Linked DNA regions of Homo sapiens: all the other regions are reported to be linked to region 3. The links are microRNA targets in miRTarBase. Many come from high-throughput screens and were not tested one by one. Region 3 holds a microRNA gene; each other region holds the end of a gene's coding sequence.
Evidence for each region. Region 3 holds the annotated microRNA hsa-miR-6857-5p (UUGGGGAUUGGGUCAGGCCAGU, at 2,745-2,766, shown strand). A microRNA usually pairs through its seed, bases 2 to 8, with sites in the 3' UTR of a target mRNA and lowers its output. Matches are read on the target gene's strand: a 7mer-m8 pairs with bases 2 to 8, a 7mer-A1 pairs with bases 2 to 7 and ends in A, and an 8mer does both.

Region 1: miRTarBase lists GTPBP4 as a target of hsa-miR-6857-5p. Seed matches in the 3' UTR shown: 7mer-A1 at 3,568-3,574 and 7mer-A1 at 4,117-4,123.
Region 2: miRTarBase lists PNPLA7 as a target of hsa-miR-6857-5p. Seed matches in the 3' UTR shown: 7mer-A1 at 4,312-4,318.
Region 4: the mRNA of VAT1 is a reported target of hsa-miR-6857-5p. Seed matches in the 3' UTR shown: 7mer-A1 at 902-908 and 7mer-A1 at 1,046-1,052.

Annotation. Positions count from the first base shown.
Region 1 is chr10:1,015,650-1,021,645 of GRCh38, forward strand. GTPBP4 (GTP binding protein 4) reads left to right here. Exons shown (of 17, transcript NM_012341.3): 16 at 104-247; 17 at 1,426-4,283. The coding sequence ends at 1,578. IDI2 (isopentenyl-diphosphate delta isomerase 2) reads right to left here. Exons shown (of 5, transcript NM_033261.3): 4 at 5,118-5,248; 5 at 3,261-4,185. The coding sequence ends at 3,868. Among named protein-coding and RNA genes, the nearest start is that of IDI2-AS1, 4.0 kb to the right of the region's middle.
Region 2 is chr9:137,456,030-137,461,374 of GRCh38, forward strand. It overlaps PNPLA7 (patatin like domain 7, lysophospholipase), which reads right to left. Exons shown (of 35, transcript NM_001098537.3): 34 at 4,605-4,708; 35 at 3,923-4,447. The coding sequence ends at 4,364. NSMF (NMDA receptor synaptonuclear signaling and neuronal migration factor) reads right to left here and starts at 3,305. Exons shown (of 16, transcript NM_001130969.3): 1 at 3,003-3,305; 2 at 2,459-2,520; 3 at 1,378-1,872; 4 at 382-457. The coding sequence starts at 3,073. RefSeq lists enhancers at 1,489-2,186, 5,010-5,345 and silencers at 2,826-3,095, 3,186-3,535.
Region 3 is chrX:53,403,621-53,408,504 of GRCh38, reverse strand. MIR6857 (microRNA 6857) reads left to right here and starts at 2,740; the gene lies at 2,740-2,832. It overlaps SMC1A (structural maintenance of chromosomes 1A), which reads left to right. Exons shown (of 25, transcript NM_006306.4): 10 at 2,549-2,734; 11 at 2,833-3,012; 12 at 3,114-3,260; 13 at 3,356-3,493; 14 at 4,612-4,728; 15 at 4,833-4,884.
Region 4 is chr17:43,010,671-43,016,585 of GRCh38, reverse strand. It overlaps VAT1 (vesicle amine transport 1), which reads left to right. Exons shown (of 6, transcript NM_006373.4): 5 at 38-279; 6 at 442-1,979. The coding sequence ends at 525. IFI35 (interferon induced protein 35) reads right to left here. Exons shown (of 7, transcript NM_001330230.2): 2 at 4,309-4,407; 3 at 3,392-3,539; 4 at 3,213-3,319; 5 at 2,924-3,110; 6 at 2,704-2,810; 7 at 2,130-2,478. The coding sequence ends at 2,287. Among named protein-coding and RNA genes, the nearest start is that of IFI35, 6.8 kb to the right of the region's middle.

The DNA of each region.
Region 1 (5,996 bases), not on the chromosome of region 3:
GCACTGAGCCTGGGAGTGGACCTGGGGTCCTGAGCGCTGAGCACTGAGCCTGGGAGTGGACCTGGGGTCCTGAGCGCTGAGCATTGCTTCCCCTGCTTTGCAGGCCCATTACGCAGTCCAGGCAAGAAGATCCCGGAGCATCACTAGGAAAAGAAAGCGGGAAGACTCTGCTCCCCCGTCCTCTGTGGCCCGGAGTGGGAGTTGCTCTCGAACTCCACGTGACGTTTCTGGTCTTAGGGATGTCAAGGTCAGTCTCTGTGTTGTGTAATGTAATAAAATGACAGTCTCTGTTGTTTATTGCACAGGGTTCAGGGCAAACACCAGCAGTTGCCATTTGCAGGAACTATGGCAGGGGTTGTGTGTACTGCATGCCCTCGTTTTGTGGCATCCTTTAGAGGAGAGCACGGGTCAGGGTGCAGGTGGATGCCCCTGACAGCTGCCCTGGATGGACCCCTCCTTGGCACTTTGCTTTTGCGGAGGGTGGCCAGAGCATGGTCTGACAGCACTAGCAGTCTGGGCTTAGACCCTGCTGTCTGAAGAGGGCCAGGAAGTGGCCACAGCTGAGCACCAGGAGGCCTCAAGTCCAGCAAGCCCCCCATGGGAGGAACAGCAGAGGGAACTCCTGGGTTGATTGGCGGGTGATCCTGCTCATCCTTAGGTTGCAGGATTGTTCCCCCCAGGTGGAGAGCTTGAGTCACATTTAGTTTATTTGTAGCGTCTTTTGGCAAAGACACTTAAGATGGACACAGTCTGTCTTGCTGAAACGTCCTTTTATTAAACACAACAACTTTTAGTTTCAGCGTTGTGGTAATGGAGATGCAGGAGAGTCTGTGTATAAACTGCAGTCTCCTTCATGGAAGCCTGAGCTTCACTCCTCTGTGCCATTGCCATCTTGAAACCTGGCTGTTAATATTGGCATTGCCACTTGTCAGTCAGACCTGAGGAAAACAGGTTCATGGGCCTGAGTCCTTAGCTTGTGTAAGAGGGAGTTAAAACAGATGTGTGCTAACCTTCTAGGTCTAAAGTGTATCTAGTCCTGGGTATAAAGCTTGTCCTGGGTATGATTTTCATCCAGTCTTTATACAAAAATACTCATTGAGTTCCTGCAGATAACTGTGCTGGGCTTAAGAGAAAAGAGATGTAACAGGGATAACTGTGCTGGGCTTAAGAGAAAAGAGATGTAACAGGGGTAACTGTGCTGGGCTTAAGAGAAAAGAGATGTAACAGGGGTAACTGTGCTGGGCTTAAGAGAAAAGAGATGTAACAGGGATAACTGTGCTGGGCTTAAGAGAAAAGAGATGTAACAGGGTCTCTTCGCTGAGCAGACCTGAGCCATTAAACAGATTGTTACCCAGTAGTTGAAATTCAGAATGGAAAATTGGTTTTAAGTAATGAACATACTTTATTTTTTTCTCCTCCTTTTAGATGGTGAAGAAAGCCAAGACTATGATGAAGAATGCTCAGAAGAAGATGAATCGGTTGGGGAAGAAAGGGGAGGCGGATAGACACGTGTTTGATATGAAGCCCAAGCACTTGCTGTCTGGGAAGAGGAAAGCTGGTAAAAAGGACAGGAGATAGTATCCGTTTGGTTGGCGTGGCTTCGCTAGAGTGTTGCTGTTTATTTCCTGGTTTGGCACAGTATGGTTTCATGAAATTGGAGCTCTGTATAAACTGAAAAAGACAAAATAAGTAAAGCACTTGTTGCTTTGCTGAAAACTATGGTTAACCCTATATAGGTGTGGGAAATTTTTGTCACTGCATAATATTACAAATATTTTGAGTAGACAGTGTTTCCACATTTAATGGAGTATCAGTTGCTTCAGATTTTCAGAACTGGGAAGATTTACTGGTTTAACTAGGTTGTTTTTGATGGAGAAAAACCTTATTTTCTTTTGTAAGAGCTGGGAGCAAACACGTTTATGAGTGTGTCGGAATCCCGTGCTTAAAATACGCTCTTAAATTATTTTCTAGTCTTATTTTACAATGTCTCATTGTAGTCTGTCTTCAACTATTTTATCCAAAATAAACCTCCAGAAGAAAGTAGTTTTCATTTACTTAGCTCATGTTTTGGTTTAGTTATAGTCGCTATGGATTTGGCCAAATAAAAAGGCAAACAACATGACATTTCTATTTTGTTTTAAAGCAAAAATACTTTTGGGGGAGTAAAATGTTGCTGGAGGCATTAGGCAATTAAATATGGGCATTCTCCTATTTCTGTGGCCCGTCCCTGAAGTTACATGTTCAGTAAAACACAAAAACACCGCCAATGCCACCTCAAAAGCACCTGCTGGGGAGCGTTGGGGTGAAGAGCTGTGGGGTCGGAGGGACCTGCCCAGGGGTCCGTGTGCTCCTGGAGCTCCAAAGACACACAGGGGTCCAAGAGCCACCACGGATAAGTTATCAAGTCACACAATCAACATTATAGCTGAGGAAAGGACTTTAGTTAATCACACTTCTGGATTACATGTGGCAATTTTAAAAATTTACCAGGGCTGGGCTGGGCGCAGGGGCTCAAGCCTGTAGTTCCAGCACTTTGGGAGGCCGAGGTGGGCAGATCAGGAGGTCAGGAGTTCGAGACCAGCCTGGCCAACATGGTGAAACCCCATCTCTACTAAAAATACAAAAATTAGCCATGCGTGGTGGTGGGCATCTGTAATCCTAGCTGCTCGGGAGGCTAAGGCAGGAGAATTGCTTGAGCCCAGAGGCGGAGGTTGCAGTGAGCCGAGATCGTGCCACTGCACTCCAGCCTGGGTGACAGAGAGAGACTCCGTGTGAAAAAAAAAAAAAAAATACCAGGTCTGGTTTTTGAAATTCTTTCTCCGTATTAAACACCAAAACTTAACATATAGTTTACTTTGTGTTAAACAACAACAGTATGGCCGGGCGCGGCAGCTCATGCCTGTAATCCCAGCACTTTGGGAGGCCGAGGCAGGCGGATCACGAGGTCAGGAGATCGAGACCATCCTGGCTAACACGGTGAAACCCCGTCTCTACTAAAAATACAAAAAATTAGCTGGGTGTGGTGGCGGGCGCCTGTAGTCCCAACTACTTGGGAGGCTGAGGCAGGAGAATGGCTTGAACCCGGGAGGCGGAGCTTGCAGTGAGCCAAGATCGCACCACTGCACTCCAGCCTGGTCGACAGCGAGACTCCATCTCAAAAAAAAAAAAAAAATACCAGGTCTGGTTTTTGAAATTCTTTCTCCGTATTAAACACCAAAACTTAACATATAGTTTACTTTGTGTTAAACAACAACAGTATGTTTTAAAGCAAGTATGTCTTTATTTGTAAGCATATTACTGAAACGATCAAATGAACAGAAGTGGATAAACGTCGAGTCACTTGGCTGAGACCATACGCATCTTCCGTACTGCTTGTATTAGGATGCAAGATTGAATGTGTCTTTTTTTTAAAAATGCAGCCTTGTGTTGCACTCTGAAATAAGTGATTTAAAAAGAAAAACATGATACAGAGATCCCATCCTGACCTTGGAGGCTTGGATAAAGCTGTGGGGAGACAGCCTCATGGTCCAGCCAGGCTAGTCCGCCTGCTTCAGGACTCTCAAGATCTCCCCAAGACTTTCAGGATCAGCTGCTGTTAATCAAACAAGTGCTTATAAAATGGAAATTGGGACAAAGGAAATGTTAAATTTCCTCCCTGCAACCAGGCAGATGAGAAATATGGAAATAAGGAAAAGGGAAAATGAAGATATGACAAAGTTGATGAAAAGGTTGAAATAGTGATTTATACATGATGGGCAATCAAGTGCCCCTTTTGCCCTGTTTTTTGGAGAGGGTGTATCATTGCCTCAATGGTGCGTCTGCCTGCACTGAGGGCATTACACATGGCTGACTCGACCTCCCTGCCTCTCACACTCTGTGTATTTTGTGAAGCTCCACAAACGGGGTCACGTCATCCAGGTGAGGCCACCACCGGTACAGAAACCTCTCGGCAATGGTTCTTAGCCAGGGGGTGACTTTGACTTCACCCCTCGCCTCCCTCTCCAGCAGCTCCCACAGCTCCTCCTGGGACAGGTAGAGGATGCTTTTCGTTTCACTGGGATCCGGGTTCAGAGTGACGTTTTTCCTCACAAGCAGAAGGTAACAAATTTCATGCTCTCCCCAAATTCTGTCTGATTTTGCCTTGTGGTGATAGATTGTCATGAACACAATGTCCTCTGGAGAAATCTATTGACAGAAATTGGTGCAGTGTTAACAACGCTAATGTAAAACACAGAATTTACAGAAAAATAGAGAAAATAAACACATTTGTTTTCCTCAGAAAATGAACACTTTCTTTGGTAATTGATAATTTCCAAAACCTCGATTTTAGCTAAGTAAATTTTTGTGGACTCAAGTCTGAATGATAAACCGGCTTTGGTTTCTTGGTTCCAGTAAACCTGTCTGTCTTCATTTAAAGAACTAACCGTGTCACACACACATCCTCAACAGAAAACCCCGTAGAAACCGGCTAGCGTTGTCAGGAGAACATCCATCCTCTCTTAAACGTGTTCTTGAGTGGATGAAGGTAACACATGCTCACAGGATCCTGGACATTCTTTCTACACTTGAATTTCTTTCTTTTTTTTTTTTTTGAGATGGAGTCTCGCTCTGTCGCCAGGCTGGAGTGCAGTGGCACAATCCCGGCTCACTGCAACCTCTGACTCCCAAGTAGCTGGGATTACAGGCGTGTGCCACTACGCCCAGCTAATTTTTGTACTTTTAATAGAGACGGGGTTTCACCATGTTGGCCAGGATGGTCTTGATTTCTTGACCTTGTGATCCGCCCGCCTCGGCCTCCCAAAGTGATGGGATTACAGGCGTGAGCCACCACGCCCGGCTTGAATTTCCTCTTCGGTGTGTGGTCGACAGATTCCTGCACAGTCTCAACCCTGCCTGGGACACATAGGGACTCACACTGCCCCATCCACAGCTACATTCACAGCCCCATTCACAGCCCCATTCACAGCTCATTCACAGCCCCATCCACAGCCCCATCCTTCATCCTCATGGTGCTTCATGAGGTCAATGGTGTAGATCCAGCCTGGACTTTGTTCACCGTCTGCCCGCTGCCAACCTGGACTCCCGTGGACACAGCTGAGACTGGATGCTGTGTGTACCTGCTCCCCAGGAATTCCCAGCTCTGCTTGCAGACGCCTCTGGGCTGCCCTCCTCACTCCGATGGCATCCTTTTCTTCCAGTTCTGCTGGGTTGTATAATGGGTGGCTACTACAGGAGTCGGTAAAATACCCTGGAAAAAATGCATGTGGGAACATCCCTCTTTATTCCTGAAAAGTGAATATATTAAATACAAATGCAGATGCTTCATGTAAAACCATCATCCGTCATCAGCAGAAGACAGCCTGGCGGGGGGAGTGGGTTTGTCATGGGCTCTCAGAGCAGCACTCGCCTCCAGCCTCCACGGCTGTGGGCTTGGTGAGGGTCTTCCACATGACCACCTGGCGGGGCTGGCCCTGACCGCTCCTGCGGCCCTTCCTGCAGATGTGCACACACATGTCCCGTGGCACTATCCCAGTATGTCTTAGGAGAGGGACTGGTTCCTACTCAGTTTTGTACCCACAGAGGACCTGAGATGCCATGGGGTGGCGGGAGGAGGTGGTGGGGCTGTGGGCTGGGTGGCTGCACCAGCTGGGCTGAGGAAGCTGGGCTGCACTTTGAGGGTGGTGATCAGTGAGCATGGTTTCACAGGAAGACTGCTGGAATACCTTTGACCAAGTTTCCTTACTGAGAGGTTCTACTTAATTTACCCAAGTAACAGCAATAGCGCTATGACGGGAGGTCACACTCTCCTCAGTAAATCTCTGTTCCCTCTCGTTCCTCAGACCCTCAGTGCTTCCTTCGGTCACTCTGCAAGGAGTTTGGCTGAAGTTGAATCCACTCTTGCAAGTACAAGAGCTGGTACTCCCACCTGCCCCTATGTATCCTGGAGGCGGCTAACACATGATAGGAAATCTTAGCTCCAGGGGCTTTATTTGCAA
Region 2 (5,345 bases), not on the chromosome of region 3:
GAAACTGTGATGACCTATGGCACGTATGAAACAGAAGTAGGCTTCTATTTGGGGTTTGAGGGAGGGCAGACACAGGCTGAGGAGAGTGGATAGGAGCAGGAGAACCTGCCACACCCCACACCCCACTGAGAGCTCATCAGCTGCAGCCCTGGGCCAGGTCCCCTGACTGTGTGTGTGTGGGGGGGGGGGCTGGGCACCAGCCATGGGAGGGGAAGAGCAGTCAGCCCTGGCCTCCCTGGCAGGCCTGGCACAGCATAGGCACGTGGGTCTGTTCAGAAGCAGCCCCCCTGGTAGGCCCAGAGACTGGGAAAAAGTGCTGTTTCCTGAGCAGCAGAAAGAGACCACCCAACCCTGACCCCAAGTCGTGGGCACAAGACTCACGCTTGCATAGTTGTGGTTGCTGTCTGGAAGCTGAAAAGATTTTCCTTGGGGAACCAGGTACGAATAGGGATGTCGTCTAAGAGAGACAAAAAGGAGCGGTGGCTGGGTGAAGTAGGGGTTCCTGAAGCCTCTCCCTCCCTGTTGGGAAGCAGATGCTTCTGGGTCCAGGGGTCAGCAGAAGCTGGCAGCCAGGGCGGGTGGGGGGAGGGTGGCATCCCCACACGGGCACAGAGGGCAGTGCTCGAATGTCTGCTGCTCACTCACCAAGACCACGCTCTTGGTAACTTGACGCTTTGATTTTTTTGGCTTAACTTTCCCTTTGGCCACCCAAAGTTTGAGAAACATTCCTTTGAAAGCACAGTCTGTCTCCAGGAGGCCCAGGAAAACAATGCGTCTGTTTCCCTTGGGCAGAAGAGGCTCTGAGGCCTTCTCTGCAGCCCCCATGCTCTAGCTGGAGGCCCTCACCGAGGCTAGAGACCACCTTGCTGAGGGCTGTCCCCTTCCGAGGGCCCCCACAGCCTTTCCCTGATGCCCAAGTGTGGGGACAGTGGAGTGACTTTCTGCCTGGTGGACAAGCTACCACACAACTCAACAACCCTGGGGAAAGATGCCCACTGCCTGGCTGGGCCCCAACAGCTCCCCAGGACTCTCGGAGGGCAGCCCAGTCTCCTGATTAAGCGGTGCTTCCTCCCTACATATCCCTTAAGATCCTCCCAGGCCCCCTCCTCCAGGAAGCACTCCTTGATTGACCTGGTGCTAGCAGGGCGAAAGCGGACTGTGAGGCCTGGCAGATTTTGCTGAGGAGCTGAGGGAGCTCACAGCTCATAGGGTGTGGAGGCCGCAGCAGAAGCCTGCCGGTTTTAATCTTGAGTCCGCTGGCATGCTGTGACCTGAGCACCTGTTCTCTGTTCCAAGCCTCACAGTGGCTGCTGCTGTCAGACCCTGGCAGCGGCATGCACCCCCAAACCTGTCTATGCCCTGACACAAACCCCTCACCAGACACACGGTCAACGCTGTACATCCTCTCCAGCTTCTTGCGGCGACCGGAGGTCTCAGGCAGAGGTGGCTGGTCCAGCCCAAAGGCCCGAGGGGTGGGGCCAGGAGCCAGCTGGGCACATCCGGGGCACTCCTTGGAGCCCTGGCGGCTGCCCGCCCAGCTCTGGCAGGGCCTGCTGACGTCCTCCCGGCTGCCACCAGGGCTGGCGCGCAGGGGCTGGCTGTGATGGTGAGGGTGCCGCTGCCGCCGCCCCTTCACCACCGCCAGCTCAATGGCCTCCGCCTCAGGGCTGGGCAGCAGGGCAGGCTCCCCAGAGATGGTGTACACTCGAGGCTGAGGGCCCTCGCCTGCGGGCTTCCTAATGCTGGGCTCCTCTGAGAGGCTGCCCTCGTAGCAGCCGTTGGAGACGAGGGACAGGCGGCGCTTGTTCTGGGGGGCCGGCTGCATCTCGGGGGACCCGTCGTGGCCAGAGTAGGCATCAGCCAGCAGGTGATCTAGGAGAGACACTGAGTGAGCCTGCCTGCCGCGTGTGGGCCCCCCGCTGCCGGTTTCATAGCAGGCCGAAGGCAGAGAACACCCAGTGGGCACCTGGCCTCTGTGGGGGACTAGGGCTGCCCAAACCCTAGTCACTGGCGTGTTTCTGAGCCCCTCACTCCTATCTGGGCCTGAAGCTCTAGCATGTGCGTGGGGGCTGGGTGACGCTGTGCTACCTGTGTGCGGTCCTGCCGGGTAGGAACACGCAGGCCATCCCCCAGCCTGCGATCGCACCGTTTGCCTGGTGCCAACTTCCCCCTCCCCCCACCAGCTGGCCCCCAGAGGCAGTGGTGCCAGCCCTGGGGGAGCCAGGAGGCCTGTTGCCATGCCAACGGCCCAGGCGGGGTGGGTGCCATGGTGACGAGCGGCTGGGAACTGCTCCTGGGGCTCGGGCAGGGAGGGCAGGGGATGTAAGGAAGCCAGGCCGGCAGGGCGCCGGGCCCACGCGCAACCAATGCCCCTCACGCTCCACCCCCGGAGGCAGGGATCAGCATCCCTTGGGCTGGGGGGTCTGGGCGGCCCTGGCACGGCCTCGCGTGCCCCTACCTGCGCCGTTGCGGTTCTCAGGGTGACTCTGGGACAGGTACTCTCCAAACGCTCGGGCTGCTCTGAGGGTGGACAGAGGGCACGGTCAGAGGCCACGGCACGACCCTCCCAAACACCGGGCCGCGCAAGAGCCGGGGGTCCGGTCCCCAGCCAGGCCCTCGGCGTCTGGAAGGAGGGTCGGGGTCGTCCCCCTCCGGGAGCCCACACACCCTTGGTCCTGGTGCGCCCTGGCCAGGCCTGCAGGCCCGGCCCCTGCCCGTCGGACCGTGGAGAGGGGTCGCGAGGCCGGTCGGCTGCTGTTCCCCGGGGGAACCGAGGCCACTCCCGACCTGGGGGGTGCGCTCGCCCACCACGCGCTCGCGAGGGGAGGGGAGGGAAGAGCAGGGCAGGGGACCAGGAAGAGGGAGGCGCGGGGCGCGGGGAGGGCGCCTCAGTGGCAGAGGCCGGGGCCCGGGAGCCCGGGGAGCACCGCGGGGCAGGGGCGGACTCGGGCGGGGTCGGAGGTCCAGGGCGGGGTGCGGGAAGGCGGCCCCGCCGCACTCACCGCACTTTGGCCGCCACCGAGGACATGGCCTCGCTCCTCAGCGCCCTCCTCCTGGAGGCGGCGGCGCCCATGGTCGAGGCGGCGGCGCATCCCCCGGGCCTCAGAGCGCGCCCCGCGCCCGCCGCCTCCGCCGGGGTAGCCGCGCCGCACCGGGGGTCGCGCTCGGGCTCGGGCTCGGGGTCTCGCTCGGGCTCCGGCTCGGGCTTGGGCTCGGGGTCGGGCTCGGGGTCGGGCCCGGTCCCCGCATGGCCGCACCCGGCGCTCCGCGCGTGCCGCCGCTCCCGGGAGAGCGCTGCCCGAACCGAGGGCCGGCCCCGCCCATCGTGACGTCAGGGCCCGGGCGGGCCCAGAGGGGCGGTCGGCCCCACCTACCGTGACGTCAGGGCCCCGGAGAGCTCGGAGAGGACATGTGGCCCCGCCCACCGTGACGTCCGGGCCCGGGTTGAGTTGGGGGCGGGGCCGGGCGGCCTGGCTCCGCGCCCTCTCGTCCAGGCCTCCAGAGCGGGGAAACTGAGGCCAGCGGCCCCCTGGTCGCAAAGTCCTGGGCCCTCGGCCCTCACGATCTGCTGCTCAGACCTGCAGGATCACAGGGAGGCCGGTTCTCCCTCCCCTTACACAAAAGGGCTCCCTGTGCAGTTTGGGAACTGGAAACCGAAGGGGAAGCCAGTTTAGGGGGCACCCAGTTTGCACGAGGCCAGAGAGAGACAGAGGGGCCCGTCCTGGTCCTGGGGGGCCACAGCTCTATGCAGACTCTGGACGCCCTACCTGCCTGGCCTGCATTTGCCGCCCTAGGGCTCTCAGGCCCCAGCAGTGGGGTCCTTTGAGGAGGACTGGGGACTGCCCAGCCTCAGGGACCACCCGCATCAGGGAGAACCAGTAGTGTTTCTTTGCCACAGGGACCTCGGCCCGGGAGACACGTCCAACAGTGAGATCCACCTTTATTGAAACATCACACGGCAGCATCAGGGCTCCCACACCTCACAGGGCAGCAGGCAGTTCACAGGACAGCAGGCAGTTCACAGGGCTTTGGGGGCCTCACAGGGCAGCAGGTGGTTCACAGGGCTTCGGGGGGCCTCACAGGGCTTCGGGGGGCCTCACAGGGCTGCAGGGGGTTCACAGAGCTTCAGGGGCCTCACAGAGCTTCAGGGGCCTCACAGGACTGCAGGGGGGCTCACAGGGCCCTGTATGCAGGGCTGCTGGTACAAAGAAGAGGCCCAGAGAACCCTAACACAGCCTGGGGCCCCGGGGAAGTCAGGGCTTCCAGCAGGGCAGGTACAGAGGCCCCTAGGACTTGGCAGGAGCCTCAGCCTTGGGGACAGTCCCACGGAAGACGCTGCATCCGGGCTCTTTAGCAGAGGCCTCTACCCGTCCTGGTCAGAGGAGCCCTCAGACAGTTTTGGGAAAGCCAGACTGGGGTGTCGATGCCGCAGTGAGGACTCGTCCTCCTGCAAGCAGACCGCATGTTCCAGGTGAGGACCAGGCAGGGCAGGGGCTCTGCAGCGCTGGTAACCCGGTGGGACCACAGGGAGGGAGTGGCCGGCACAGGGCCAGGCACCAAGGCTCAGCTGTGGGCACCAGGTGGGACCATGCCCAGCTCCTCACCAAGTCTGAGCCCTGCTGGGCTGAGGTGCTCTGGAAGTCTGCGTATGCATCCCTGGGGACGTCCAGCAGCTCCTCCTCGTACTCCGTCTGGTAGTCAGATTCGTCTGGCACCGAGGGTAGGGCTGCGTCAGTCCCCTCCCAAGGAAGGGACCGTACCCAGCATAGCCACACTCAGAGGCAGAACCGGCCACAGATGCCCACCCCCGCCTCCAAGGTGGCCCGGGGCCCTACACGCAGCCACCTGGTCCCAGGGCAGCCCTGCACACCACCCCTGGTTCTGTCTGGCTCCAGCTTTGCCCCAGCACATCACTTCGTGGGTCTTCCACAAGGACAAGGAGCGGGCAGACACTCCTCCCCTTGTCAGCCAAGCACCCTGAGGGCTCCAGCACCCCAGACCTGGCAACTGTGGATAGGGGCTGCCTTGCCCAGGGCCCTCTCGGCCTGCGGCAGCCATGAAGACGTCTCCCAGGAGAATGTCCAGTTCTGCTGTGAGGAGGCCACTGGCTGAAGGCCCAAGCGCAGGGCCCTGGATGGAGCATGGAGGGTAGTGGACCCGCCCTTCTTGTCCTGCGGCCCCTCCAACAAGCAGCCTTCATTCCCATTTCCCACTGGGTGGGGTGGGAGGCAAAACGTGGTTCTACTTCAGGCCTGAGGTGTGGCTGGGAGTTGAGGTGAATGAAGGGCAGGGGCTGGGTGACCCGGGGTGGTCACAGTCCCACTGCTGTGGGAACACGTGGTGCC
Region 3 (4,884 bases):
TTTGGTTCCACTAATATTTCCCTATCACTTCTCTAGACACTGCTGGGGAGATAAGTATGGTTAGAGTCAGTCCCTGCCCCCTTAATCTGATAGTTCTTAGGGAACCAGGCTTGGTTTTGGAGGCTGCAGGAAGGGAACTGGTAGAAGAGATTGATTGATTGATTGATTGATTTTGAGATGGAGTCTCGCTCTGTCGCCCAGGCTGGAGTGCAGTGGCACAACCTCGGCTCACTGCAATCTCTGCCTCCTAGGCTCAAGTGATTCTCCTGCCTCAGCCTCCCAAGTAGCTGAGATTACAGGTGCTCGCCGCCATGCCCAACTAATTTTTTTGTATTTTTAGTAGAGACGGGGTTTCACCATGTTGGCCAGGCTGGTTTTAAACTCCTGACCTCAAGTGATCTGCCCGCCTCGGCCTCCCAAAGTGGTAGGGTTACAGGCGTGAGTCACCACGCCCAGCCAGATTTATTTTGCTAAGTGCTTGTGAGAATTTGAAATAATATATATAAGATACTTGGCATAGTGCCTGGGTGGTGGTGGTCTGTAAAATGGTAGATGTGAGGTTTAGAAAGATGATTCTGGATTCAGACACGACTGCCTGAAGTCATTGCTTGGGAACCAGAATAGGCTTTTCCTTGATAGCATGGGGGCTGTGTTCTTCTGTGAGATAGGAAAAAACCAAAGTGTTTTTTCTACTCTCACAACCAGCACAACACTTCACTTCTGACACCAGAAGTGTGGGGGTTTTTCCTCACACACCAAGCAATTCTCCAGCAGACACCAGCTGGGTGACCTATAATTCACTTCAGCTCTGACACTATTTATCTGGAGATAGCATCAGATCCTGTGGGTTAGGGGCTCAGTCCAAGACTTCAGGTGCCAATTGCAAGTCTCAGGTTGTGACTTGTGGTTCTGACTGACCTGCTATAAATTACAGTTCCCGAGAATCCCTCCCTGGGTTCGATTAATTTACTAGTGCAGCTCACAGAACTCAGGAAAATGTTTTACTTATGTTTACCCATTTATTATGAAGGATATTACAAAGGATACAGAGAACAGCCAGATGGATGCATAAGGCAAGGTATGGGAGAAGAGATGTGAAGCTTCCATGCCCAATCTGGGCAAGCCACCCTCCAGGTACCCCCACACAGGGGCTTCATTATGTAGTCATGATTGATCAGATCATCAGCCATCGGTGATCAGTTCAACCTTCAGCCCCTCTCCCCTCCTGAAGGTTGTAGGGGTGGAGCTAAGAGTCCCAAATCTAATCCTGCCTTGGTCTTTCTGGTAACCAGCCCCTATCCAGAAGCTATCTATGGGCCTCCAGCCATAATCATCTCATTAACATACAAAAGACACTGCTCATTCCTGAGATTCTAAGGGTTTTAGGAGTTGTGTGTCAGGAACTCACGGGTAGAAGACTAAATATATATTTCATAAAACCACAGTCCACTTTGATCTTCAAACACAGATCCCTTACATCAGAACAATCATGTAATAAATAGAAAGATGCTGGGAGCGGTAGCTCACGCCTGTAATCCTCGCACTTTGGGAGGCCGAGGCGGGCAGATCATCGGAGGTCAGGGGTTTGAGATCAGCCTGGCCAACATGGTGAAACCCCGTCTCTACTAAAAATACAAAAATTAGCCGGGCATGGTGGCGGGCACCTGTAATCCCAGCTACTCGGGAGGCTAAGGCAGGAGAATCACTTGAACCTGGGAGGTGGAGGTTGCAGTGAGCCAAGATTGCGCCACTGCACTTCAGCGTGGGCAACAGAGTGAGACTCCGTCTCCAAAAAAGAGTAGAAAGATACTGGCACATTACTAGAATCCCACTGAGTCATTAATTAATAATTAGTCTAGTCCATGATCATGTCATGTAAAAATGTCTCCTAGGGTGAGGCCATTCAGGTTTGCAGGCTTCTATTCAATCTTGTTAGGTTCCAAAACCAGGAGTGTTCTCGGCAAACATAGCTTCATACTTTCAGGCATCTGGGATAATTGTGCTAAGAGACAATATCATCTCTTGCTCTGAACCTCTTTTGAGGTGTTAATGTAATACTGAGTTTCCCTCATTACATAACTCATTTATTCATTTCTTTACCTCCCTTCTCTTACCCAAACTTTTCCACCTTTCAAAGGGACGTTAGGATTGGCCACTGTGCTGATCTGGAGTGCACACAGCAAGCTAGTCTGCAATTGCCTCCTCCTCAGTCCATACAGTCTCATTCAGATAGGGTAGGGTTGCATGGGTACAGAACTAGTGGGCTGTCTTTTTTGTTTGTTTTGAGACAGGGTCTCATTATGTTGCCCAGGCTGGTCTTGAACTCCTGGGCTTAAGCTGTCCTCCCATTGCAACCTCCCAAGTAGCTAGGATTACAAACACACACTACCATGCTTGGTATTGGGTTATCTTAACCACTAGGCAATACAGTTGCATTCACTTCCTGATATAGATTCTAGTCTGTCCCCCTTTCCATACTGGGAATTAGGATTCCTGAGCCAGCTTCCAAAAGCTTCATACTTCAGTTTTCCCTTCCTACTTTACTCAGTACGGCCGCCTCATTGACCTATGCCAGCCCACACAAAAGAAGTATCAGATTGCTGTAACCAAGGTTTTGGGCAAGAACATGGATGCCATTATTGTGGACTCGGAGAAGACAGGCCGGGACTGTATTCAGTATATCAAGGAGCAGCGTGGGGAGCCTGAGACCTTCTTGCCTCTTGACTACCTGGAGGTGAGGCTTGTTGGGGATTGGGTCAGGCCAGTGTTCAAGGGCCCCTCCTCTAGTACTCCCTGTTTGTGTTCTGCCACTGACTGAGCTTCTCCCCACAGGTGAAGCCTACAGATGAGAAACTCCGGGAGCTGAAGGGGGCCAAGCTAGTGATTGATGTGATTCGCTATGAGCCACCTCATATCAAAAAGGCCCTGCAGTATGCTTGTGGCAATGCCCTTGTCTGTGACAACGTGGAAGATGCCCGCCGCATTGCCTTTGGAGGCCACCAGCGCCACAAGGTGTGGATTCCCTTGCCCAGGCTGGAGCTGGACAGGCTCAGTACTGGAGATTCATTTGTTCAGCTTCTCCCCCTCTTCTCTCTTCCCCCTGCTGTGTGTAGACAGTGGCACTGGATGGAACCCTATTCCAGAAGTCAGGAGTGATCTCTGGTGGGGCCAGTGACCTGAAGGCCAAGGCACGGCGCTGGGATGAGAAAGCAGTAGACAAGTTGAAAGAGAAGAAGGAGCGCTTGACAGAGGAGCTGAAAGTAAGCCACAGGCAGTGCTGTTTTTAGCAGTGGGAGTCCTAAGCCTAGGTCAGCCACCACCTTACCACCTAGCCCTTCTTTCTTGTTCCCTTCAGGAGCAGATGAAGGCAAAACGGAAAGAGGCAGAGCTGCGTCAGGTGCAGTCTCAGGCCCATGGACTGCAGATGCGGCTCAAGTACTCCCAGAGTGACCTAGAACAGACCAAGACACGACATCTAGCCCTGAATCTGCAGGTGGGGCCTGGCCTTCAGCCCTGTTCTCCAAAGGCCATCCACACATTCCTGGCCTAGGTTTCTCTGGGGGTGGGGAACTTGTTTCACTTCCCCGTCTCCTCCCAGCCTGCCGCAGGGAGTCAGGTATAGCATAGAGTCAGACAGCCAGGGGTTCAGAGCTTGGCTCTGCCTTGAGTTTGACATTAGGCAAGTATTTTCACCTTTCAGTGTCAACCTTCACATCTTTATCTGTGAAATGCGAGTTAAGATGATACCTACTCGGCCGGGCACGGTGGATCACCTGTGGATCACCTGAGGTCAGGAGTTGGAGACCAGCCTGGCCAAACCTGTCTCTACTACAAATACAAAAAATTAGCTGGGCGTGGTGGCAGGCGCCTGTAATCCCAGCTACTTGGGAGGCTGAGGCAGGAGAATTGCTTGAACCCGGGAGGTGGAGGTTGCAGTGAGCCGAGATCATGCCATTGTACTCCAGCCTGGGTGACAGAGCGAGACTCTGTCTCAAAATAAATAAATGATACCTACTTTATAGGGTCATTATTGAATGAGTTAACATGTAAAGTGCTTAAGACTACCATGTGTTCAGTTTATGTTATGTGCTATTGTTAGCATAATTTATTCATTCAACAAATTTGAATTTTTGAAAGTGAGCTATGGGCATTTCAGTCCCTGCTTGTGGTAGTGGGCGGGGCGGGGGGGGACTGTTCTAGGTATATTAATGTGTTTTGTTTTTTTTACTGACTACTTCCCCAGACCGCCCTAGAGGTTTTATATGTAGTGTGTGTATTTATATATCTTTTTCTAAACTCAAAAAATCTAAACTGAATTCTGAAACAACTCTGCCCCCAGGGGTTGTAGATCAAAGACTGGGACCTATACCTAATGATGTTTACTGTGTCCCCAGCCCTGTGGATTGAAGCTGGCTGAACTGGATGCCAGGGAAGAAGCCATGTGATGGCTTCAGTGCAACATCATGGAGGCTTGACTAGGGCAGTAGTGCTAAGCCAGGTTCTCTCAGTTGTGGAGAGCTAGCCCTTCCTGACTGTGGGGCCAATGCAGTCAAGGTAGCTTTTTCTCCAAGGAGCCTGGTCTGCTTTGTCCTCTCAACCCATTGCCTGTAGGAAAAATCCAAGCTGGAGAGTGAGCTAGCCAACTTTGGGCCTCGCATTAATGATATCAAGAGGATCATTCAGAGCCGAGAGAGGGAAATGAAAGACTTGAAGGAGAAGATGAACCAGGTTGGTAGGGTGTGGGCCATGCCAGCGTGTGTGTCAGGGCAGGACTGGGACTGGAAGCAGGACAGACTAAAAGGGCCGATGCCCTCCCTGGCTTCTCTTCTCAGGTAGAGGATGAGGTGTTTGAAGAGTTTTGTCGGGAGATTGGTGTGCGCAACA
Region 4 (5,915 bases), not on the chromosome of region 3:
TGGGGGGGTTCACAGGCTATGTCACCTTGTCCTTCAGGAATGGCCAACCTGCTGACGGGCCCCAAACGGAACCTGATGGCCCTGGCCCGGACATGGTGGAATCAGTTCAGCGTGACAGCTCTGCAGCTGCTGCAGGCCAACCGGGCTGTGTGTGGCTTCCACCTGGGCTACCTGGATGGTGAGGTGGAGCTGGTCAGTGGTGTGGTGGCCCGCCTCCTGGCTCTGTACAACCAGGGCCACATCAAGCCCCACATTGACTCAGTCTGGCCCTTCGAGAAGGTGAATGTGAGGACTTTGCAGGGAGGGCTTGGGTAGGACTCATGAAGGCTGGGGTCCCAAGGGGCAGATTCCTGGGGAAGAGGAGGGCTGCCTGCATCACACTGGCTCTTGTTGGATGAGGGTTGGATAGCACTGGGAGCCGCATCTTTCCTTCCTCCCCAGGTGGCTGATGCCATGAAACAGATGCAGGAGAAGAAGAATGTGGGCAAGGTCCTCCTGGTTCCAGGGCCAGAGAAGGAGAACTAGGGCAAGTGGCTGTGAGACCCTAGAGACCAGCGAAGGGAGAAGTTGGGAAGCTACGTTCTGTTGGCCACCAGACTTGCATTTCAGCCTCTGTCATAATGCTCTGCCCTCCCTCCCCCGAAGGTCTCTGTGGTGATGACCGCTCTCCCCTGCCCCTCCCCGCTTCCTGACCTCTGAAGAGGTTGGGAAGTGACCATTTGGATGTCTGGGCCCTGCCAAGGCGACAGGGAGGGTCAGAGGGAGGCCGGCTGCTTCCTGCCCCCACCCTTTCCCCGGGCCTGCTGTGCTGCTTTTGTGCCAAGGTTAGCCAGTCCCCCCTGTTGTGTTCCATGTGCTTTCACCTCTGCCTCATCTTTCCTCCCGTCCCTGCCCCGCCACCTCCCCAAAGAATTGAAACGTCAGCTCAGGATATGGGGCCAATCTCTGTGAGTCCAGCATGTACCTGTCTCTCCCTAGTGTCCCTTCAGCCTGGGCTGACCAGTGCCCGCCTCTGGGCTTGACCAGTTCCCAATCTCGTCCTCTGTCCCCAACTTCTTAAGCACAATTGGGCTTCTTCCATCTCCAGGTTTTCTGCCATTCTTAACCAAGGCTGCCTCTTCCAACAGGGCGGGAATCAGACCTACTCCCCTAGGTCACAACTCTGGGAAGGATACAGAGCCCCCACCCTTCACTGAGTTCTCTGGATTTGTTCTCAGTGCCTTAGCAACGAAAACCTGTGCTTGTGTGTGTGTGGCGGCGGGGAGGGAGGATCCTGTTTCCCACCTCCTTCTCCTCCCCTGTACTCCCCAGTGCCTTCCTTGTTCTGGTGGAGCTGGGGTTTCTCTCCTCCCCAGTCCCACAACACTGCCAAAAATCTGTGTATGTGCCATTGGGTGGGGCAGCCCCAAGCCTCCTGGGGAGGCAGGGCAAAAACAGGTGCCCTCATCGTGGTCTGTGCCATGTCCCGTCTCTATGGTGGTTGAGGAGAAAGGCGGGGAAGCTTCCTCAGCCTTGCAGATATGTGTGGCATTTACTAGCCAGAGCTCTGAAAGGCAGTGCTGTCTGTTTCTTGTACTGGGACCAAAGTAAAAATCCAAGCACATTCCCCTTGCAGTTAGGGGAGGCCCTACTGCCTTCTCAAAGCAGAGAGGCAGCTTATCAAACTCAGCCCAAAACTCTGTTTACATGGGTGGGGAGATGGAGCAGGGAAGTACAGAGTGGGATGGTCAGGACCTGGGCCATTGCAACCAAAATGGGGACTTCCTGGGTAGGGAGGTCACTCCCTCTACTCACTGAGCTAGGATTAGGGAGGGTTATTGCCCCAACCATTGCAATGGGAGGTGGAGGGACAGGCTCAGCCTCCTCATTGTCTAAATGAGGCCTAAATGTGTGAAGTGCGATTTCTGCTTTTGTGTACCCCACCACCCCATTACCACAGCTGCCTTTGTGTGTTTGTGTCAATAAAAAGCCAAACCCTGGGTCCTGCTTGTTGCCTCTGAGAGTGGAGGGAAGGTGAGCTCCTGGAAGGCTAGTGCTGCCAGCAGAAGATCTGGGCTGCTTCCTGCCCCCTGCCTCTTTCCATGCCCAAATCACGTTTCCTTTCATGAGTGAAATGAGGAAGAACATCATGGCATGCAGGCTCTTTTTACTGTTCTGGGCAGTGTTTTGCAATGTGTGACCCCTCCGCACTGTTGGTGAACATACAGACCTCCTATATGGGCACCCAAGCCCAGGCCAGTGTGAGAACCTTGGCGGGGGGGTGGGGAGGATGAGAAGGGGAGGCCCCTAGCCTGACTCAGAGGTGAAGACTGCTAGGCCCTGCTGTCCTTGGGGTACGACTGTCAGGGCCTCTACCTCCCCGCCCCCGCGGGTGGGCTTCTGGAAGTGGATCTCCAGGACGTCATGCAGCTCCGGGCCATCCAAGATATCAGGAATGTTGAGCACCAGTACCGAGCGGGGAACTGGCTGCGACCTGATCTGGAAAAGGAGCCAGGAGATGGCAAAGGCTCATGGGAGAAGGGCTGGGGGCTGGGGGTAGGGCAGGCAGTGCCCCATGGGGGTATGAGGTCGGGAGGCCTGGAGAGGCTGATGGTGGGTAGGTAGGTCAGTGGGGTTTGGGGCCTCTGATCCTTCATTGGGCAAGTTCCTGGCAGGCAGACAGGTTACCCAGCCCAGCCCCTGTTCTTCACCCCTCCTGCTTACCTCAGCCTTCTGGATCTCCCCGTTCACATACGGAGAGACTCTCAGAGGGACTTGCTGCCCACCCAGTGGCACTGTGAACTGGCCGATTTGGCACAGACGCTGAGCCACTGTGGGGAGCAAGGAGGGGTGGGCCTTTAGCATCAAGCCCTCTCCTCTCCCTGCACCGTAATCTTGCACACCCTATACCCTCTCCCCTGCAGGAGGCCTGCATAGCCCTCACCTCCATCCCTAGCAAACCCCAGCATGACACTCCCTGGCAGTAGCTCCCGAACGTCCACATCGCCACCTCCGTTCCTAGTCTTGCCAAAGAAGATCTCTAGCTTGTCCAGCAGCTCCTCCTCACTCAGCCTGAGGCTGGCAGGAAATCCAGTGACCAACACCCTCCGGCCACTCAACTGGCTGGACATCTAGGGGGAGACAGCAAGGGGTGGTCCCAGACACAGCTCCACTTCCCCATGCCCAGGTGCATGGCATGCTTTGCATGCCCCAGGATTCTGTCATACCATCACCTGGATGGTGGTGACCATGGGCAGCTCCAAGGGCTGGACCTGCACCCGCAGCCGGCACTCCTCCATGTTGATCGTGTGCTCCTTTTGTTGCAGCACCTGCTCAGCCACTGGGTGGTGGGAAACAGGGTCAGTACTGGGAACCCTCCCCACCTCCCTCCTGAGGCTCCCCATGAGCTTACCTTTGGGGTCATCAAAGGTGATCAGAGCAGAGCCCGCAAGCAGAGGGCAGTGGATCCGCAAATTGGAAACTAAAGACTTAGGCACTTCCGGGTCCTGCTGGGTGTGTCCTCGGAATACCAGGGGGATCTTGGGCACTGAAAATGGGACCTGGAAGTAGGGGAGGGGAGTAGGAGTGTTCCTCACTCCCACCTAGGAGGAAGGCATCTCCGATTCCATTCCATTGATGCTGAGTGCCGGAGATAAATACATTTACTGAAAGAAAAGCTGGATAAATGAGTGGATGAATGCAGGTCTGGTCCATACAGGGCAATTTACATACAACATCTTAATTTGTCCTGGGAGGTGGGTAGCTCTACTTTACAGATGTTCAAGTAACATAATGGAGGTCACACAGCAAGGAAGTAGCAGAGCCAGGAATAAAACCGAGAACTCCCCAGCTCTTTTTTGTGTTTCTTTGTTTTAAAGGGAGTCTTGCTCTGTCACCCAGCTGGAGTGTAGTGGCATGATCTTGGCTCACTGCAACCTCCACTTCCCAGGTTCAAGCAATTCGGACTCAGCCTCCCAAGTAGCTGGGATTACAGGCATGTGCCACCAAACCCAGCTAATTTTTGTATTTTTAGTAGAGACGGGGTTTCACCCTGTTGGCCAGGCTGGTCTCAAACTGACCTCAGGTGATCCACCAGCCTCGGCCTCCCAAAGTGCTGGGATTACAGGCGTGAGCCACTGCGCCCGGCCTAATTTTTGTATTTTTAGTAGAGATGGGATTTCACTGTGTTGGCCAGGCTGGTCTCAAACTCCTGACCTGAGGTGATCAGGCCCCCTTGGCCTACCAAAGTGCTGGGTTTACAGGTGTGAGCCACCGCACCCGGCCTCGCCAGCTCGTTTTTACCAAACAACACCAGATCTCCCACCTTACCTTGTCTTTGGGGGAGTCCCCGAGCTCCTTTCTCAGCTGCTGCAGGTCCCACAGCCTCATCTTGAGTCTGGCCTGCTCCTCCTGAAGGGCGTGGAGGGCCTGTTGGGGCAGAAGGAAACAACAAGACTTCTACCCGCCCTTCCAGAGAATCAACAAGCCCAGGGGAAGTGGGGCCTATTCTGGACGCTCCAAAAGCAGAGTTGATGCTAAGCTCAAGAACAACCCAACCCCTTTGTGCTGCCCTGGGCTGGTCTTGGCCCCCTCCACCCAGGGCTTGGCTGGCCTCATCTCAGCTGCTCTTGAAAGGGCAGGAGCCTTTGCAGCGTCCATGACTTGTTCGTGACCACAGATCTAGAGTTCAACAAACACTGATTAAGCTCCTGCTAGAAAGTGCTCGGCACTGACACAGGCAGTGGAAGATAAGGGTACGACCCTCAGGCCTGCCAAACAGTGCTCAAGAGTACATGATCACATGACTGACTGTGAAGGGCAGCCGGAATTTGGAAGAGGGACAATCCCAAAGGGGTTAACCCAATTAGGGACACCTCCAAGAGGAGGGGAGACTAGTTGCAAAATGTCATACAGTCATATTCTTAACTAACGTTTACTAAGTACTTACTATATGCCAGGCACTGTGCTAAGCCCGTCTGATGAATTATTTCATTCAATTCTTAGAACAACAGGGTATCTAAGATAGATATCCTGTGATCCTTATTTTATTGATTTATTTTTTTAATTTTTATTTATTTATTTATTTTTGAGACAGAGTCTTGCTCTGTCTCCCAGGCTGGGGTGCAGTGGCGCGATCTTGGCTCACTGCAGCCTCCACCTCCCAGGATCAAGTAATTCTCCTGCCTCAGCCTCCCAAGTAGCTGGGATTACAGGCACCCACCACCACACCTGGCTCATTTTTGTATTTTTAGTAGAAACAGGTTTTCACCATGTTGGCCAGGTTGGTCTCAAACTCCTGACCTCAGATGATCTGCCCGCCTCGGCCTCCTAAAGTGCTAGGATTACAGGTGTAAGCCACAATGCCTGGCCAATCCTTATTTTATAGATGAGGAAATTAAAGCTCAGAGAGGTTAAATGACTTGCCCAAAGTCATTTGGCCCTAGGCTGTCTGACTCCAGAGCCCACCCACTAACCTGTGCTTTACAGTGAAGAAATGAAGCCCAGAGTGGGGAGGTAGTTTACCCATCAATTCTAGCTTGTCCCTGGACTGTCACACTTTCCACTGTACACCAAGTAACCTTTTAGGCTGGGTGTGATCTGGAATGGGTCCAGAGAGAGAACTGACATCACAGGCAGGGAAGTGACACCAGGGATACCAATAAATGCACCTTTGTTTGTGGAATAGAGCAGAGTTCACCCTGTGGTTAGGAATCCTGATAAAGAAGTTCAGCTCAGAGAAGCATGAGATCTCTTGGAAAGATAGGACTCTGTTCTGACCATCTCTGTATTCCTTGTGTCCAGCAAGATCTCCGGCACAAAATATGTGTCCGGTAAAACTGTGTTGAATGAAGAAATGAAGTGAATGAATGACGGTAAAGGAGCACATTACAGAGGACACCAAAGAAATTCAGTGTGAGTTTGTTCTATTTTTAGCA